2 separate regions of the Homo sapiens genome follow, and region 1 is linked to region 2. The links come from fine-mapping of genetic effects on gene expression. A gene starts in region 2. The other region holds a variant in brackets. All regions are shown on one strand. Distances are between the middles of the regions. Region 1 overlaps LINC02798 (long intergenic non-protein coding RNA 2798). Region 2 holds the start of LINC02798 (long intergenic non-protein coding RNA 2798).

What was found.
Region 1: its variant is fine-mapped to the expression of LINC02798 in aorta (GTEx, PIP above 0.99). The same link has a PIP of 0.9 or more in cerebellar hemisphere, esophagus muscle, gastroesophageal junction and subcutaneous fat.

What each region holds. Positions count from the first base shown.
Region 1 is chr1:121,448,861-121,458,623 of GRCh38, forward strand. The region is part of intron 1 of LINC02798 (long intergenic non-protein coding RNA 2798); the gene reads left to right. Among named protein-coding and RNA genes, the nearest start is that of SRGAP2-AS1, 56 kb to the left of the region's middle. The variant T/G (reference allele first, on the strand shown) is at 3,973.
Region 2 is chr1:121,391,083-121,400,845 of GRCh38, forward strand. It overlaps LINC02798 (long intergenic non-protein coding RNA 2798), which reads left to right and starts at 4,490. Exons shown (of 2, transcript XM_047438024.1): 1 at 4,490-6,222. The coding sequence starts at 4,802. The coding sequence ends at 5,845. It overlaps SRGAP2C (SLIT-ROBO Rho GTPase activating protein 2C), which reads left to right. Exons shown (of 10, transcript NM_001329984.2): 10 at 1-1,792. It overlaps SRGAP2-AS1 (SRGAP2 antisense RNA 1), which reads right to left and starts at 6,823. Exons shown (of 4, transcript NR_104189.1): 1 at 6,681-6,823; 2 at 6,399-6,584. RefSeq lists a silencer at 4,567-4,861.

The DNA of each region.
Region 1 (9,763 bases), 58 kb after region 2:
GAGGCAGGAGAATTGCTTGAACCTGGGAGGGGGAGGTTGCAGTGAGTCGAGATTGCACCATTGCACTCCGCCCTGGGTGACAGAGTGAGACTCCATCAAAAAAAAAATAAAAAAGAAAGAAAGAAAAGCAAGGAATGGGGACACATCTTGCTAGACACAATATAAGTACAAAGTCATGATAATAATAATAATGAAACCAGTGTGGTATTCATCACAGATGAAAGAAAGATGACATAACAGAGAGCTCAGAAATAGACACAAACATGCAGTTATAAACATGTGTGTTAATTTGATTTATAATAAAGTTGAACTATAAATGATTTGGGGAAACACAGTTTGGTAGATAGCATCAGAATATTGAAAAAATAAGTTAAGGCCATATGCCACACATTAAATTAGTGAAAAGTAGAATTATTAAGAAGGAAAAAAAATCATGAGAATATAAGTGTTACCTGGAGGTAGTGGAAAATCATGTTGAGTATGACCCTAGGAGGATAAACTATAAAGGAAAGAAGGAAGGAAGGGAGGGAGGGAGGGAGGGAGGGAGGGAGGAAGGAGGGAGAAAAAAAGAAATTATGGATTTGATTACATTACAATTAAAGGTTTATTTTAATGAAGAAATAGAGACAAAGTTAAACAGTTGTTGACTAATTCAGAAAAGATATTTACAATGTATAAAATAAATAAATATTCTAGATTGACATCTAGATTAGGGAAAGAATCCATGAAAATCAACATGGAAAAGACAGAAAATCCAGGGGGGAAGAAGAGGGCAAAGGAAAAAGTTTAAAACACTGACATTCCCAAAATTCAATACAATTTGCGGGGATATCCAGTAAGTCCTCACTTACTGTTGTCGGTAACTTCTTGGAAACTGTGACTTTAGGCAAAATGATGAATATTGGAACCAATTTTACCATAAGCTAATTGATATAAACAGGAGTTAAGTTGCTATTTCTGGCATATTTCTGGACACAAAAACATCACCAAATTTCTAAATAAAGGCCCCAAACACTTCTTATATTAAACATTGAAATAAATGTGAGCTATACATACGTATAAGAAAGATGAATAGAAACAAGTAAAGTAATTATTTACTTAATTTTTGGTGAATCAGTGAGTTACAGCAGTCATAGCGGTCATGGGTTAAATCAAAGAATAAATGTTGCAAAGTGAAAGTTTTAATCAGGACGTCCTACCACTATGCAGCTCAAAAACAATCACAAATATGGCTCCATGAGGGCTTTTGTACCTCACTGTTTATTGTCGAGCATTTGTAGGATTATTGTATAGTTTACTAATTTTTATTTTAAAATAATTTGTATTCATTCATTCATTCATTCATTTATTTTCTAACTTGCATATTCCAATTCAGGGCATGGGTGGCCAGAGTCTATCCTGGCAGGATCCAACCCTGGACAGGATGCTATTCTATCACAGGGCACACTCACATACACACCCACGCCAGCCCATCCTGGAACAACTTCGACATACCAATTAACAGAACATGCACATCTTTGGGACGTGGGAGGAAACTGGAATATCTGGAGAAAATCCATGCAAACATGGAGAGAACATGCAAATTCTGCATGGAGAGTGGTCTTGTGTGGGAATCCATTTGTTTTCTTATTACGGTTATTACAAAGTGACATTGAATTAAATGATGTTGTTCAAGGACTTGCTGTAAATGAATCTAAGAGGTGAGAAAAGTGATGGGTACAGGGATCAGGGATGAAAGGGGAAAGTCAATATCAACCAGCAAAGGGTCTTGATTGTGCTGATGATACTCTTCAGAGTATAACTAACTCAATTTTCTGCAACCAAATTTCAAAAAACTAAGAAAAATACAACAGTTTGAAATGAGGGATACAGAAAGCTCTAGAAGGATAGTTTTGTTTTTATATACAACATTAAATTCACATTGTTATGCTTACAAATACATGGAATGTTACTAATTTATTTTGAAAATCTATTACTGTTCAGGAAGTATTTTGAATAGAAAATCATCTCACGTACTGTAATAAAATACTTCATATTTGGGGCATTGGGCAGAAGGGACCTTGGATTATGAGTAAAAGGCAGGATGTTTTGTTTTGTTTTAGGAGAATTGATAGGTATTCTCACTGCATTTGTAGGTTGCTGCTAGGGGTGCAGGCGACCTGTGATGCAAACATTGGTTGTATATATGCATACAAGTGGGTTGCTCAAAAGATGCTAGGTACCTAAATGTGAAACCAAAAACATGTGAAACCAAAAACATTCCTAAGTAGCCACTATTTTGTATCCTCAATGTTTTTGTCTTTGATGTAGAATGAGTTACTACTAAGCCAATAAAAGTAAATGAGAAATGAAATCATATTTTGGTCAATTATATCATTCAGGAATAATAAACACTACTACAAAATAAAATTAAGATAATTTTTTACCCTCCATCTAGTTTTATAATTCGACAAATTCAGATTGCCTGAGAAATAATAAAATATTTTTAGCCATTGTGCTATTTTCATGATTTTATTAAAATGTAAATTCTCAGAGATCTGAGATATTCTGAATCTTTTATGCAGATTGCTTATGTTTTAAAATTTTCTCATCATCTTTTTTACAAGAATATATGCTTATAAAGAGATGGCACATTTATGCTGTAACAAAATGGAGTTATGGAATATATGGATAGCCCATTTCACAGTTAACTACTTCAATTTTATTTTTTTCAAGGAAACTGTCTCAGTTGTCCATCAATTAATTGATTAATCCAACAAACATTTTTGATCACTTCAACATATGTGGATATGTACTGAGCATTGGAAATTTTAAAAATACACACCATACACACACACACACACACAAATACACTATTCCCTGTTTGTGTAGAGCTTGCATTTAAGACGAGTTTTTAGACTTTAAATGAAAGAAAAAAAATTACCTTTCCATGACATTTTAACTGTTGATCCTCTGCAGTAAGCCAAATAAGCCTATTACATCTTCCACATGTGAACTTTTTAAAAATCTCATGGGTCACCAGAATCTTCCTCATATGACTATTATGAATGCACCCTCAGATCACATTTCATTTCCTCCATGACCTTCTTAAAATGCAATACCCAGCATTGAATGTAGATATTGTCTGCCAAATACAGTGAAATTATTAAATGTGAGAAAACAGGTAGCATACTTTCTTCTAAAGTAGCCTGGTAGGTGAACAACACAGTCAGTTCTTGTACCCATGGGTTCTGCATCTATGGATTTCATCAACCATTGATCAAAAGTATTTTTTAAAAAATGAGTGGTTGCATCAGTATTGAACATATACAGACTTCTTCCATTTGTCACGATTTTCTAAATAATACAACAGTATAGCGAACTATGTAGCATTTGCAATGCATTAGATATTATAACTAATCTAGAGATGATTTAAAGTATATGGGAGAACGTGTGTAGGTTATATGCAAATATTATGCTATTCTTTTTTTATGTTTTTTTCTTTTTCAACTTTTATATTAGAATCAGGGAATACATGTGCAAGTTTATTAAAAACGTGTATTACATGACACTGAGTTTTGGGGTATGACTGAACCCTTCACTAAGGTAATGGGCATAGTATCCAATGGGTAGTTTTTTAGCTCTTACTCCCTTCCCCTCTCCCCATTCTAGTAGTCCTCAGTGTCTGTTTTTCCCATCTTTATGTCAGCATTTATTCAATGTCTAGCCCTGCTTATAAGTTAGAATATGCAGTATTTAGTTTTCTGTTTCTGCATTAGTTTGCTTAAAATAATGGCCTCCAGCTGCAACCATGTTGCAGCAAATGACATGATTTCATTTTTTATGGCTGCATAGTATTCCATGGTGTATATGTACACATTTTCTTTACCAAACTGCTGTTGATAGGCACCTGGGTTGATTCCATGTTTTTGCTATTGTAAATAGTGCTGCAAAGAACATACAGGTGAATGTGTCCTTTGATAGACTAATTTA[T/G]TTTCCTTTGGGTATATACCCATTAATGAAATTGCTGCGTCAAATGATAGTTAAACTCTTAGGTCTTTGAGAAGTATTCAAACTACTCTCTGTAATGCATAGTGGCTGGGCTAATTTACATCTTCACCAACAGTGTCTGAGTGTCCTTTTTCTCTGTAACCTCACCAACATCAGTTATTTTTTGACTTTTCAACAAAAGCCTTTTGGACAGGTGTGATCTGGTGTCTCATTATGGTTTTGACTTGTATTTCTCCGATAATGAGTTGATTAGCACTTTTTCACATGTTTGTTGGCTGCTTGTATGTTGTCTTTTGAGAAATATCTGTTTATGTCCTTTGTCCAATTTTTAATGGGGTTATTCATCTTTTACTTGTTGATTTCTTTAAGTTTATTATATATTCTGGATATTAGGCTTTTGTTGGATGCATAGATTGCAAGTATATTCTTTCATTCTGCAGGTTGTCTGTTTACTTCCTTACAGTTTCTCTTGCTGTGCAGGAGTGTTTTACTTTAATTAGGTTCCACTAATCAATTTTTGTTTTAGTTGCAATTGCTTTTGAGGACTTAGCCATAAATTATTAGCCATCGCTGATATCAAGAAGGGTATTTCTTTTATTTCTGTTTTCTGATTGCTCTGGCTAGGACTTCCAGTACTATGTTGAATTGGAGTGGTGAGAGTGGACATCTTTGTCTTGTTCCATTTCTCAAAGAGAATGGTTCAGCTTTTGCCCATTCAGTCTGATGTTGGCTGTGGGTTCGTCATAGATGGCTCTTGTTATTTTGAGGTATGTTCCTTTGATGCCTAATTTGTTGAGAGTTTTTAATCATGAAAAGATGTTGGAGTTTATCAAAAGCTTTTTTTGCATTTTTGAGATGATCATATGGTTTTTTATTTTAATTCCGTTTATGGAGTGAATCACATTTATTGATTTGCATATGTTAAACCGATCCTGCATCCCAGGGATAAAGCCTACTTGATTGTGATAAATTAACTTTTTGATGTGCTGCTGAACATGGTTTGCTAGTACTTTGTTGAGGATTTTTGTGTCTATGTTCACCAGTGATATTGGTGTGAAGTTTTCTTTTTTGTTGTTGTTGTGTGTCTGCCAGATTCTGGTATCAGAATGATGCTGGCTTCATAGAATAAGTTAGGGAGGAGTACATCCTCCTTGATTTTTTGCAGTAGTTTCAGTAGAATTAGTACCAGTTCTTTGTATGTCTGGTAGAATTCATTTGTGGATCTATCTGGTCCAAGCCTTTTTTTTTGTTCGTAGGTTTTTTTAAATTACTGATTCAATTTTGGAACTTGTTATTGGTCTGTTCAAGTTTTCACTTTCTTCCTGGTTCAATCTTGGGTGGTTATGCATGTCCAGGAATTTATCCATTTCCTCTAGGTTTTCTAATTTGTGTGCTCAGAGGTGTTCGTAATAATCTCTGAGGATCCTTCGTATTTCTGTGGGATCAGCTGTAATGACATCTTTGTCATTTCTGATTGTGCTTATTTGGATCTTCTTTCTTGTTAATCTAGCTAGTGGTCTATCAATCTTGTTTCATCTATAAAAGAACAGACTTTTGGTTTCATTAATCTTTTGTATAAGTTTTTGCATCTCAATTTCATTCAGTGCTCTGACTTTAGTTAATTTCTTTCTTTTGCTAGCTTTGGGGTTGGCTTATTCTTTTCTTTCTAGTTCCTCTAAGTACACTGTTAAATTGTTAATTTGAGATCTTTCTAACTTCTTGATGTAGGATTTTAGCACTGTAAACTTTCCTCCCAATACTGCTTTAGCTGCATTTCAAAGATCAGCAACAACAAGTGTTAGCAATAAAAGTTGTTGCTTCCTATCTGCTCTTCAGATCTGCCAAATGTCTCCCTTGTGGTCCACCCTAACATACAATTAAGGGAATGCTGGAAAATGTAGTTCAGCACAGTCAAGTAGACACATTAAAGCCTAAATAGTAATGATATACAGTTGTCCCTTGATATTCATTGGGGATCGGTTCCAGGCATATCTTCGTTATACCTTTCTGTAATTATTTATTTACCTATCACTCCCAACAGCAGGACAGTAATATCTTTGATGAAGAAACAAAGCTTAATTCCATTTTGTATTTTCTATGGAATCACAACTCTTGGCACTAAATAGGCATTCAATAATTATTTACTGAATGTACAAGCTTAATTTAGAAGGAAGAAAGGGAATTTAAGAGATGAATGAGATAGCATGATGGTTAATATTAGGTGCCAACGTGATTGGATTGTGGGATGCCTAGATGGCTGGTAAAGTATTGTTTCTCTGTGTGTCTGAGTGTGTTTCCAGAAGAGACTGACATTTCAGTCAGTGGACTGGGAGAGGAAGACTCACACTAAATGTGGGTGGGCACCATCTAATTGGCTGCCGGCCAGCTAGGACAAGGCAGGCAGCTCTCTTTTTTCTTTCCATGCTGGTTGCTTGCTTCTGCTCTTCCTGCCCTTGGACATCATACTCCAATTTCTTTGGTCTTTGGGCTCTGAAACTTGTACCAGCAGCTTCCCCAGGGCTCTCAGGCCTTCTGCCACAGACTGAAGGCTGTACTGTTGGATTCCCGGTTTTGGGGCTTTTGGACTTGGACTGAGCCACTACCAACTTCTCTCTTCTTCAGCTTGCAGAATGCCTATTGTGGGATTTCACTTTGTAATCATGTGAGCCAATTCTTCCTAATAAACTCCCTTTTATATATACATATATCCTATTGGTTCTGTTCCTCTGGAGAACCCTGACAAATTACAGATGGGAAAATGTGTGTTAGGCAGTGGAAGCAAGGAAGGAGCAGGAAAAATTGGGCCAAATTAGAGACAAACTCAGTACTATTAAATTTCCTTTAAGAAATTCATATTACAGATGTATATAAGTAGGCAACTAAACCAATCATATTGGACCTTCAGAAGTTTCAATAAAATGCCATAGAAACATGATAGTGGGAACCTCTCACCCTTGAAATAAATACTTATTTTAAAAGGCCTAAAATGCTGTTGTTGGCCAGTTGTGGGGGCTTATACCTGTAATCCCAGCAATTTGGGAGGGTGAGGCGGGATCGCTTGAGTCCAGGAGTTTGAGACCAACCTGGGCAACATGGCAAACCTCTGTCTCTACAAAAAATAGAAAAAAATAGGCAGGCATGGTGGCGTGTGCCTGTAGTGCCAGCTACTTAGGAGGCTGAGGCAGGAGGATCATTCGAGCCCCGGAGGTCGAGGCTGCAATGAGTTGTGATCACACCACTGTACTCCAGCGTGGGCAACAGAGTAAGACCTTGTCTCAAAAAAGCAAAAACAAAAACATGGAGTTATCTTCTTTGGTATTATATCTGGTTTTGAACAGTTTGGTACAACTTTTATATGAGCTGATAAGTCATATTTTTCATTCAAAAAATTATTCAAATATTTACTTTTGTTCTATTAAGTAAATATTTTTAATACTGATTTATTTATTTTCATTATTTCTCTCTTTTATCTAGTATTAATTTTTTTGTCATATAATATGCCTGGAGGGAGGGAGAAAAACGGGGGAAAGAAGATGGAGGGAAAAAGGGATGAAGGGAAGGAAGGAGGGAAAAATTTTACATTTTCTTCCCAAAGATTCTGATTAAGTAGATCTGAATTAGACTGTACTTACAACTGTGCTTGTAAGACATTTCAAAAATTGATTTTGATGGGCAACAGGTTGGAGAACTGTCAACTAGAGGACATGGTAATGAATTGATGGTCAAATGAACATGCCCAAAACTATAAAAAATACTATCTGTGAGTCTGGTATAAGCCACTAATCTACTATTTGAATATTAGTGACACCTACAGTTGGGATTGCACCAACAAACATCTGTCCTGGTCTGGATCACATTTTACTGCTGTCCTCTGTTTCACCTGTAAATCAAATACCAGTAAATATTCTGACTTGATGGGTGTTCAGCAAACCGCTGTTTTTGAAAAGATGTTGATGTTATAATTTTATAGTTTCTTAATGTCTTTGTCTGCAATTAAAACAATGTGGAGTCACCAAGAGTTTATCAATTTATCAATTATTTTGCTGTTGATCCATTTATTTTCTGTGTTAATCAGATCATAAGCTTATAAATACAATAGTATACATGAGAGAAATGTATCAACAAGGGTTGCTCTTAAAAAAAAAGAATATTGTGAAAACTGGGTAGGTATGGGGTAGTAATGAGGAGAAGGATCTCTTCAAAGGCAATAGAGGTGGCTCAAAATTGGAAGTTAATTTCCATATTCTCACACCCTCGCCTCTGTTCCAACACCAAGATAAAATGCTGCTGGCTGCTTATCTTCACAGATACTGTCAGCTTTTAGAGTTGTGCTATTTGTCACTATTTCTCACATCAAGAATAACCTGGACTATTGCTCTGAATTATTCCATAACAAAATGTAGAAGATAGGAAAAGTCTAAGAAAAACAACTATACAAAATCTGAAGTCACAAAAATTTTCAAAGTCAATACTGACTTGAATACAATGTAGAAGTGTTTAAGAAGAACATTATGTACTCTGAGTCTTGATTTTTAAGCCAAATTATTACAGTTGGTTATAATGTTAAAATTATACCTAGCTCCAGTGGTTACATTTTGAGATGCCTTTATTTTCAGTGGTTTAACATTATTTTCTAGTAAAATATCTTTAAAAATCAACCAATATGAGTGCTTCACTAATATGTAGTTTTCAAACTATTGTGTATTTTTGCTTTGCCTTGTTTGGGCACATAGTTTGATTTAAGAAAGGAGTTGAATTAAGCTCAGGTTTTGATCTTAGCCTGAGAAGGTTAGAGTTCAGATGGAACAGCCACTGTTATTTGAAAGGATTATGTTGCAATTTTAGTACCACTACAGGATTCATATGCAGAAAAGTTCTGATAATTTTGAAGTAGTATACATAGTTTCATATTTTAAAGAGTGATACACACTGAATTGTGTTATTTTGTGAGGAATCTGGACTTTTAGTCAAATATTTCTAATATTTCTAATTTCATTTTTTGTGTATACATATTTATTAAATTGAAAATTTTGTCATATACATGAATTTGAAATTATATATATATGAACATATACATACATATGTATGTGCATTTGTGTATGACTTGAAATGAATTTGTGTATTTTAGGGCAATCTCATGTGCTTTCCATGCCATGAGGGCATTACTGTTCTGTTCTTTGAAATTTTCTGAATATTCTTTTCTGCAGACAAAATGGGATTGAGGAAAATACTCTAGACAAAGTACAATAAAGCATTTTAGAGACTAATTATAATTTAGTCCAGTAAAAGGTAGAAAATAGATAACTACAAATAATCCTAAAACCTGATGTGCAATAGTATGCGATTATCTTAATATAATGTTGATGAAATTCCCCATTAGATGGGAATATAGGGAAAATACAATTTTATATTCCAAATACATTTATATACAATGCAGAATGTAGCAGTATAGCTATTTGATGGATATATGTAATATAGAAAGTTAAATATTATAATTTTGATAACATAGTTTTGCATTTACTTCCCTTAAATTTAGTAGTAGATATATAAAGTGCAGAGCCTACCTAATAGGGAATAATCAGTAATTGCATATATGACACACACATGCTTGAGTGCACACACAGACACACACACACACACACACACCTCCACAGTGTAAGAACCAGGCTGTATTTGCAACCTTGGGAAATTTAAACTTCAGAGAAAAATGTGGCTGTTTCTGTCAAATAAACAATAATTGTGAGTGCAGAGAGGTTAATCCAGTCAGGTACCA
Region 2 (9,763 bases):
GCGTGGTGGCTCACGCCTGTAATCCCAGCACTTTGGGAGGCCGAGGCGGGTGGATCACCTGAGGTCGGGAGTTTGAGACCAGCCTGATCAACATGGAGAAACCTCGTCTCTACTAAAAACACAAAAAAATTAGCTGGGCGTGGTGGCGCATGCCTCATTCACGTACATGGGAGAGTCTACAAAGTCACACGTATTCATAGGTTAAGCCACATGCTGACAAATGTCATAAGAAGACCCTACACTTTTACCTTGGCCGATCCCTCCCCTCAGTGCAAGCTCTGTGCAAGAGTGAACTTGAACTTCACTCAGTGCAAGAGTGAACACACACTTTGTGCCGGCTTTAAAGAACCCAGCACAAAGCCAGTCTGCATGGCCTACAGACATATTTTGCTGGACAATGATTACTTGCTTTTCTTTTTGTTTTTCTTGTATATGCCTGTTTGATTGGTTCCTGACATACCAGAAAATCACTGTCAAAACATTAGCTTAACATTTGTTAAGGAAACAAAAAGACTTCGGTGACCACACCTTATAAACCAAACAGTTTTGTAAATCACTTTGGAAAATTTCACTAAAAAAAAAAATCCTTAACAATATAATAAGTAAAGAAAATTTAAAACCACAAAACATTACTGTGTTTGTAGGGGGAGGTCTGATTTACAGAGTAACCACATAGTAATTATAATTATTAGAATGTCCAGTTTTCAAAAAACGTTACAAGGCATACAAAGAATGGGAAAGTGTGGCTCATTCAAAGGAACAAAATAAAGTGACAGAAAATATCCCTAAGGAAACCCAGACATCAAACTTACCAGACAAAGACTTTAAAACAACTCTCTTCATTATACTCAAATGTCAAAAGGAAAACATAAACAAAGAAATAAAGGAATCAGAAAAAATATTAAAAAGTAGGAATATCAGCAAAGAGATAACAAATTCTGGAGTGGAAAACTACAATGATAAAAATTTAAAAATCACCAGAGGGATTTAAGAGTATATTTGCACACACAGAGGAAGCCATGAACTTGAAGAGAAGAAAATGGAAAATACTGTCTCTGAGAAACAGAAAGAATAAAAAATAAACAATGAGCAGAGACTAATGAATTTGTGGGACATCATCAAATAGACCAACATTCATATTCTAGAAGGATAAATTATGTTGTTAAAAAGTTTACCATTCTTTCTTTTCACCTTTCTTCCTTCTTCCTTCCCCCTCCTCCTTTTTACTTTTCTTCCTCTTCCTTTCTCTTCTTCTTTCTCGCCTTCATTATCCCTTTCGCTGTTTCTCTTTCTCCCTTTCTCTTTTTTCTTTTCTTTCAATTTTCTCAATTACTAAGAGATGTTTAAGTACCCTTAGCATGTTAGTAGATATGGTTATTTCTCCCTTTAGTTCTCTTTTGAGATTTATAGTCACTCAAATAAAGAGATAACCCAAACATAAGCGTCACAAACAGGCTTTCATACCATTCTTAATTTGGTCCTGTAATTCTTCATTGCTGTATTAATTTTCTGATGCTTTTAAGGATGTTTTATAACAAATTGTGTAGCTTTTTCCAATGGAATGTTTATTCTGAATTATCTAATTCATATTGTAAGTATAGAGGGAGTTTAATATAAAATTATTAAACTAATATTTGTGAAAGAATGTATTTGAGCATTTAACAAATATGTTAATCCTCAGACTGTTATTGGGCAGCTGAGCATACAGGAATAAAAATAACACAATTTTTATGTGTACAATATTTATGGAATACGTTACTGGACCCAATAAATAATTTAGTTAATAACATGACAAAGAACAGAAATTGTATACACTATAGAGCATAGTAATGGAATAATGAATGATTAAAGTTATTAATATTAGGTAGAAAATGAAGGGTATCTTTGAGAGCAGAATTCAAGGAAGCAAGCAATTCGCCTTATCAGGAAAGAGTTACCTGTGGATAAAGGAGAAACTGAAAAATTTACAAGTCAAGACTTTTTGAGCAAAAACAAAAATATGACTATTAGTCACCAATTCAGTACAGTGAAAAAAATGTTGAAGAGATATCTTGGAAGTAAACCATGTTGTGGAAGAGCATGTAGGGTTTTGATAATCATGGGATGATTCTGAATTAATTTTAAATGCGATAGGAATATATGAGATAATTTCACCAGAGAATAATATGATTGTGTTTGCATTTCAAAGGGGTGTATCTGGTGCACTGTGTAGAATAAATAGGTTATGTGAGCAAATAAATTGGGAGGCTACTCTAATCCAGCGAAAAAAGGTAGTGACTTAGGTGAGAATGCTGTCAGCATGAGTGGTAGTAGTGGTGAGAAGTCGTTAGGCCATGGATGTATTTCATAGGACTGGCCAAGAGAACTGCAGCTAAATTGGAGTGTAGGGAGTGAAATAGAGAACTCAAAGATGACTCTCAGCAATGGAAGGTGACAGCTGTCACTGAAGCATGCTGATGCCTCTTATTAAGAGAGTTACTTGGGAATGGCAAGATCAAAACTTCTCACTTTCAAATTTATGAAAAATATTGTTTTCAGAATGAGTGACTTTGGGATCAGAAAGCCACCATTCTAATTGATGGTTCCACGACTACACGGGCTCACACTCGCAAGAGCAAAAGTAAATCATCACAAAGGTGCTTCTTGATAATTCTAGAGAATGGAGAATTACTGTAACATCTTTCTGATTTTAGGAGAGGTAGCAGTTCCCTTTTTAGCCTAAACGCTATTTCTTTTTAAAGCTCAGCCAAGAGACTCCATTATAATTTTCAAATGTGTGTAACTTAAATTCTCATATGAAATACCACTATGCTTAAATTAGTCAAAACATTTTCCCCATCTACAACTCTATCTTGTCATTGTAATCATTTTCACAAAAGTGACTGCAGCTCTCAGACCCTAAAAAGAGAAAATCCAGGGTAGTTTATCTGATCTAGTTAGTTTCGAAGACAGGATCTAGAGATTATTTAATATGAAATGGGTCACCTGAAATGAAGTGTTTACTGAAAACAGCTTGGATCAGCCCAGTTTTCTACCACTGAACCATGCATTTGGTTTAAAAAACACAACAACTCTGGGGAATATCGGCTGCTTCCAACTGTGTTGAAGGTGTTAAAGAAAAGAGCATAAAATTAAAAATGATCATCTGAGGCCTTTATAGTCTCTGCTCAAGAGACTAGAGTTTTCCATTCTTAACTAAACACCCAAATATCTTAATAATTGGGCAAAATCTAAATATCAGAGATAATTTTATCTTGAAGATTGTTAAATTATAATGGTGATTCACTAGCTTGCCACGTCTCTGAGTCAAAAATTAGGTCTTTGTTTAGGAATCAATCATAATCTGCAATTTGGAAATAGGAAGATTTTAGAAGACTCAGACATTGACTTTCTTCTGTGCAAAAAAAAAAGACGTATTGAGATAAGACAAGTCTTTCCTTGCAAGGATACCTCTAATGCTCATACACCACCTCCCCTAACATTAATAGAGCTTCCAGGTCACTAACCAGTGTCAGAGAGCAGCCCATGCAACTAGAAATTCAAAAGATGTCGAACATAGGGTCAAGCTTAGAATAAGACGTCTTAGCTAATTAAGTATGCTTTTTTCCCGAAATTCATATTAACAAAATCTTGGATATGTCAGAGAATGCATTCTAAGTTCACTCAACCTAGGAGGGAGAAACATAATTTTAAATTAAGAGCTGAAGCATTCTTGTCCTAACACAAAGCAAGGAAAACGAAATATCACACCACAGGAGGGATTTCACAAATTTGCGTCAACATCAAAACCTTAAAATAGGCAAGGAGAATGCAGATTCACAATGAACTCTTGTACTTGTTTTGTTCAGAGGAGAGATGGTTCTGAGAGAATGACAGTGAACTAACCCCAGCTGGTTTAGTTGGTGCTTTCAACTACTGCTTCTGATCAACTCCTTTAGCTAGAATAAATTGATGAGGATTTTGGCATGTGGTATTAGAGATGGTTATTAATTTTTTCCTCTTATTTGCATTGTTCAATATAGTAAATACTAGCTGTATATGGCTACTTCAATTCAAATTAATTACAATGAAATATACTTAAATATTGAATTTCTTAGTCACTCTTGGTTCATTATTGAATATCTTCAGCTAAGATTTCCCAACTAAAGACACTAAGAGGTGGCTTAGTTAACTGGTCATCCACAAATATTGAAGCTGCTGTTAACTCCTGATATATTCTCTGCAAGGAGAATACTCATAAGCCTCCTCCTGAAATCAGCAGCCTAGAGATAGTTTTATAAACTGGATACAAGTTGGAAATCTATATACTCTTTAAGTGTTTGAAATATTAGCTTCCCAGGGAAGAAAATCAAATTCATAAGATATGCTAGGACAATTTAACTCAAGATGTTCAAAACTGAAATGACATATTCTACAACATGTGATAAAACCACCCCCTAACAACTTAAAGCAAAACAGGGATGGACCTTAAAGACCTGCCTTTTCCTCATCCCCCAGCCAATCAGTTTTCAAATCTTGCATTTTATTTTGAAAGGTCCCTATCCCCCTGGTCTCTTGTTTCTAGACTTGGCACATATTTAAGTTTGTTACCTCTCTCTACTGACTTTTCTCTCTTCAAACAGTATCTATGCCTGCCAAATGTGAACGTACAAGAAACAAATCAGAATGTGTCATTCTGATTTAAACTGCTTATTAGTTAATACCCTCAAGATAACATCTGGGTTCTTAGCTTCAATGAGTCAAGCCTACTTACATCTTTTTGTCTTTGGCTGCTCATTTCCTATCACATCGCACTCCAGCAATGCCAAGCTGTGCCGGCCTTCCACTCCATCTCCATTATTTCGCCCTCCACCGCCGCCGCCACGGCTTTTTGCCCCCCCGCCGCCGCGGCTTATTCCCCCCACCCCGCCTCGGCTTTTTGCCCGCCGCTGCTTTGTGCCCCCCCGGCGCCAGGGCTTTTAGCCCGCCGCGGCTTTTTGACCCCTTGCCGCTGCGAATTTTGCCGCCGCGGCTTTTTGTCCCCCGCCGCTTTTTGCACCCCGCCGCTTTTTGCACCCCGCCGCTTTTTGCCCCCCCCGCCGCCGCGGCTTTTTCCTCGCCGTGGCTTTTTCCCCCCTGCCCCCACGGCTTTTTACCCGCCGCGGCTTTTTGTCCCCTGCCGCCGCGACTTTTTGCCCCCCGCCGCCGCGACTTTTTGCCCCCACCCCGCCTCGGCTTCTTGCCCGCCGCGGCTTTTTACCCCCCGCCGCCGCGGCTTTTTGCCCGCCGCGGATTTGTGCCCCCCTCGCCGCCGCGGCTTTTTGCCCGCCGCGGCTTTCTGCCACACACCCGCCGCCGCGGCTTTTTGCCCCTCCGCCGCCGCGGCTTTTTGCCCCCACCTTGCCTCGGCTTTTTGACCGCCGCGGCTTTTTGCCCCACCACCGACACAGCTTTTTGCACACTCGTCGCCTTGGCTTTTTGCCGCCGCGGCTTTCTGCCCCCTCGCTGCCGCGGCTTTTTGCCCCTCCGCCACCGCCGCTGCTTTTTGCCCCACCGCCGCCGTGGCTTTTTGCCCGCCGCAGCTTTTTGCCATCGCGGCTTTTTACTCGCCACGGCCTTTTACCCGCCACGGCTTTTTGCGCCCCGCTGTCACGGCTTTTTGCCCCCCTGCCGCAGCGACTTTTTCGCCGCCGCGGCGTTTTGCCCCCGCCGCCACGGCTTTTTGCCGCTGTCGCCGCCGCTTTTTGCCCCCGCCGCCGCGGCTTTTTGCTGCCGCGACTTTTTGCCCCGGTCGCCGCCGCTTTTTGTCACCGCGACTTTTTGCCCCCGCCACCGAGGATTTTTGTCCCCGCCGCCACGGCTCTGAGGGCAGGAGCGGCAGACTCGGCTGCCAGCTCTACTGGCGTCCTGGCAAGGGCAGCGCCGAGGGGTGCTCCTGGTCCAGCTCTCCTGGCTCAGGGATTCTTTGCCTAGGCGCCGGCGCCCCGGGCTCCTTGCCTAGGCCCCTGTGGCCTGCATAGAGTGGCGCTGCCTGTGGAGGCGGTGGGAGAGAAGAAGGAGGGCGGTGGTGGGGGTGATGCGGCGGCCACGGAGGGTGGCACAGGGGCTGCGGCCAGCCGGGCGCTGCAGCAGTGCGGGCAGCTCCAGAAGCTCATCGTCATCTTCATTGGCAGCCTGTGCGGGCTGTGCACCAAGTGCGCTGTGTCTAACGACCTCACCCAGCAGGAGATACAGACCCTGGAGGTAAGGGGTTCGGGGACCCGGGCTGGGCTCCAGGAGCGGCCCGGACACCTCCTTCGGGGGCCCCAGTTCACTCCTGGCCGAGTTGCATCTTTGAGCCCACGTCACCCCCTTGGAGGCTTCCCCTCCCTCCTGCACTCGCTGATGCGGCAGCCAGAGGACCCAGGACCAGCCCTCACCTTGGGCAGGATTTGTGGAGCGGGTGCGTGGTGGGAACTGGGATGGAGGCTCCAGGGTCCCGTGGGGGTGGGGGTGGGCTGCGTGAGGACATCCCCTTACCCCCTGAATTTCCATCTGGTCCAGCCCTCTCATCTTGTAGGTGAGGAAACCGAAGGCCCGAGGGAGAAATGACTTGCCAGGAACCCCTGTTAAGGAAAATTAACAAAGTGTGGTTATTAAAGAAGAACTGAGTTGGGAGTCAGACCTGGAGGCCCGCACCCGCGGTTAAGACATTATACCACCTTGAGTCTGGCCTGTTGACTGAGGGTGAGCCACTCCATCCTCATGTGATTGTGGGGTCTTAACCTCAAGGGGTTTCCTGCAGGAAGAAGCAAATGGGTTTGCTTTCCTAGCTCTGTCCAGTACGTTAGGGACCCTGAGGACTGAAGAGATTCTTGGAGAGCCATCTGGTGTATGTCATGGGTGGGTCTTTTTGGAAGGTCAGTCTGCCCAGTGGGCTGGCTCAGCCCGAATGAACTGTCTTGAATCTTTGGAGTTGTCTGTGTACTTTTAAGGGCTTCTCAGCCTTGCACCAAAAGATCCCCCTGGAAATTAGGTGGGAAAAACCTTAACTTTTGTGGGGCCTTGTGTTTGTCTTAAAAGTTCATGCACATAGCCAGGTGTGGTGGCTCCCACCTGTTATCCTTTCCTGGATCCCTTGAGTCAAGGAGTTTGAGACCAACCTGGACAATATAGTGAGACCCCATCTCTACAAAAAATAAAATATTAGCCAGGGGTGGTTGTGCGCATCTGTAGTCCCAGCTACTACTGTGGCTGAGGCGGGAGGAGCACTTGATCCTGCACTGAGCTCTGATCTCACCAGTGTACTCCAGCCTGGGCCACAGAGCAAGACCGTGACTCAAAAAAAAAAAAAAAAAAAAAAGACAAGAAAAATTCTTCAAGATTTTGCATTCTGTCCCACTACCCATTGGTTTTCATGTCAAGATAATGTCAGAAATTCTTTACAATTGCTTCCAGAAGGAGTAGCCTTTTGATCTAGTGCACAGGTGTCCAGTCTTTTGGCTTCTCAGGGCCACATTGGAAGAAGAATGCTCCTGGGCCGCACATAAAATACACTAATGCTAACAACAGCTGATGGGGTTAAAAAAAAAAAAGGTTTGTGCATAATTTTCATGCTACCCACCACCACAGATAGGTGGAAAAGTCCTTGTAGTCAAAGGGCTGGACACGGCTGATCTAGTGTCTTGTCGTCCGTTTTGGCTTTCTCCCTGAATCCAGAATGCAGGTAGAGATGTAGAGACATGCTCTCAGGACAGCTGTTGAGATAAAAAAAATTCGTTGTCATTTATTCCCAAGCACAGCTGTTTCTCATTGCATTGAAAAAGTCTCCATTCAAACTGCTGTCACATATAAAATCTATTTATGTAAGTCTGTATTTTTCTGTTGTCTTGGCCTTTGTAGGCAGTAGTGTGTTTTAACCGAGCAAACTGTCCTTCCAAATAATGAAGCCGAAGTCAGCCTACCTACTTGCCATTTTTCTTCCCCTTCCATTTTTGTAACCTCGGAATAATTGTAAGAATGAATTAAGATTTGTGTTTAAGGCCAGGCACAGTGTCTCAGGCCTGCAATCTCAGCACTTTGGGAGGCGGAGATGGTTGTATCGCTTGAGCTCAGGAGTTGAAGACCAGCCTGGGCAACATACTGAGACTCCGTCTTGTATAATTTAATTAAAATTGAAAAAAAGAAGAGAAAAAGACCTGTATTTAAAATTTTAAAAAGGGGGGGAAAGTGTAATGCAAAATGTGGACTATGCGAGCTATGACTGGGAAAACTAGTTTTTCATACAGCATTATCTGTAGACTTGTATTAGCAGCATACTGGTCATAAGCGTTTTGCTTTCCTGAAATATGATGAGGTAAGCTAATTTAAAGTGTGTTGGGGCTTTCTGCCGCGTGGCTCCTGGAGGTGTTGAGTCCCAATTTAGCCAATTAATTTGGGTTTAGTTTTGACGTGGATAAGGGAGACCAGCTTCATTCATGGTGTACACACAGTTTTGCCAATAAGGAAAAAAAAAAGCCACCTGAATGTTCCTACTCATTAGATGCTATCTGGAGAGCTCCTACCCCACCCCCACCAAGGCCCGGGCCATTAAAAAGACTCAATGCAGCCTTTCTGTATCTCATACTGTATTCTGCAAGATACTCCTGTGAAAGAAAGTTGTGCTGCATCAGCCATCTCCCTCCTGAAGATCCCTGCGGATGAGGATTTGTGTTTTGAAAGTTCTGAGAATTCCTGCAACAACAATTCTCAAACTTATTTGTCCATGGGATCTTTTCTTCCACTGAATGTAGTTGGGGAGACACGGCCTTAAGCCTTGAGCAGAGAAAGAGACAAGAAACTGTCGGCTCACTTACAACCAAGTGTTGTGTTTATGTTTTAGGTTTTTATGAAACTGAGGTGCTGTTTGAGGTTCTAAATGAAATTGGGTGGTTGAAGAGAGGCTGGTATCCCTGTAGACTTAGCCAGCCATGAGAAGTTGCCTTTTGTTGAAGGAGGTGTTTTACAAAGGGAAATAGGGTGTCTCCTGGGCATCGCATTAGCAATTAAATACATGTATCACTGAAATGAAAAGAAATGATGAAATGATGAAATGAAATGATGAAATGAAACGAAATGATGAAATGAAGAAATGAAATAATGAGATGAAATGATGATGAAATGAAATGAAATGATGAAATGGAATGATGAAATGAAATGATGAAGTGATGACATGAAATGGTGAAATGAAATGAAATGAAATAATGAAGTGAAATGAAATAATGAAGTGAAATGAAATGATGAAATGATGAAATGAAAAGATGAAATGATGAGGAAATGATATGAAATGATGAAATGATGAAATGAAGTGAATGATGAAATGATGAAAAAATGAAATTAAATGATGAATTGATGAAATGAAACGATGAGATGAAAAGGTGAAATGAAACGAAATAATTAAATGAAATGAGATGAAAAGATGAAATGAAATTATGAGATGAAATGAAATGATGAGATGAAGTGAAATGATGAAATGAAATGATGAGATGAAATGAAATAATGCAATGAAAGATGATATGATGAGATGAAGTGAAATGATGAAATGGAATGATGAAATGAAATGATGAAATTGTGAAATGAAATGAGGAAATGAAATGGAATGATGAAATGATGAAGTGAAATGATGAAATGATGAAATGAAATGAAAAGATCAAATGGTGAAATGAAGAAATGATATGAAATGATGAAATGAAGTGAAATGATTAAATGATGAAATAATGAAATGAAATGATGAAATGATGAATTGATGAAATGATCAAATGAAATG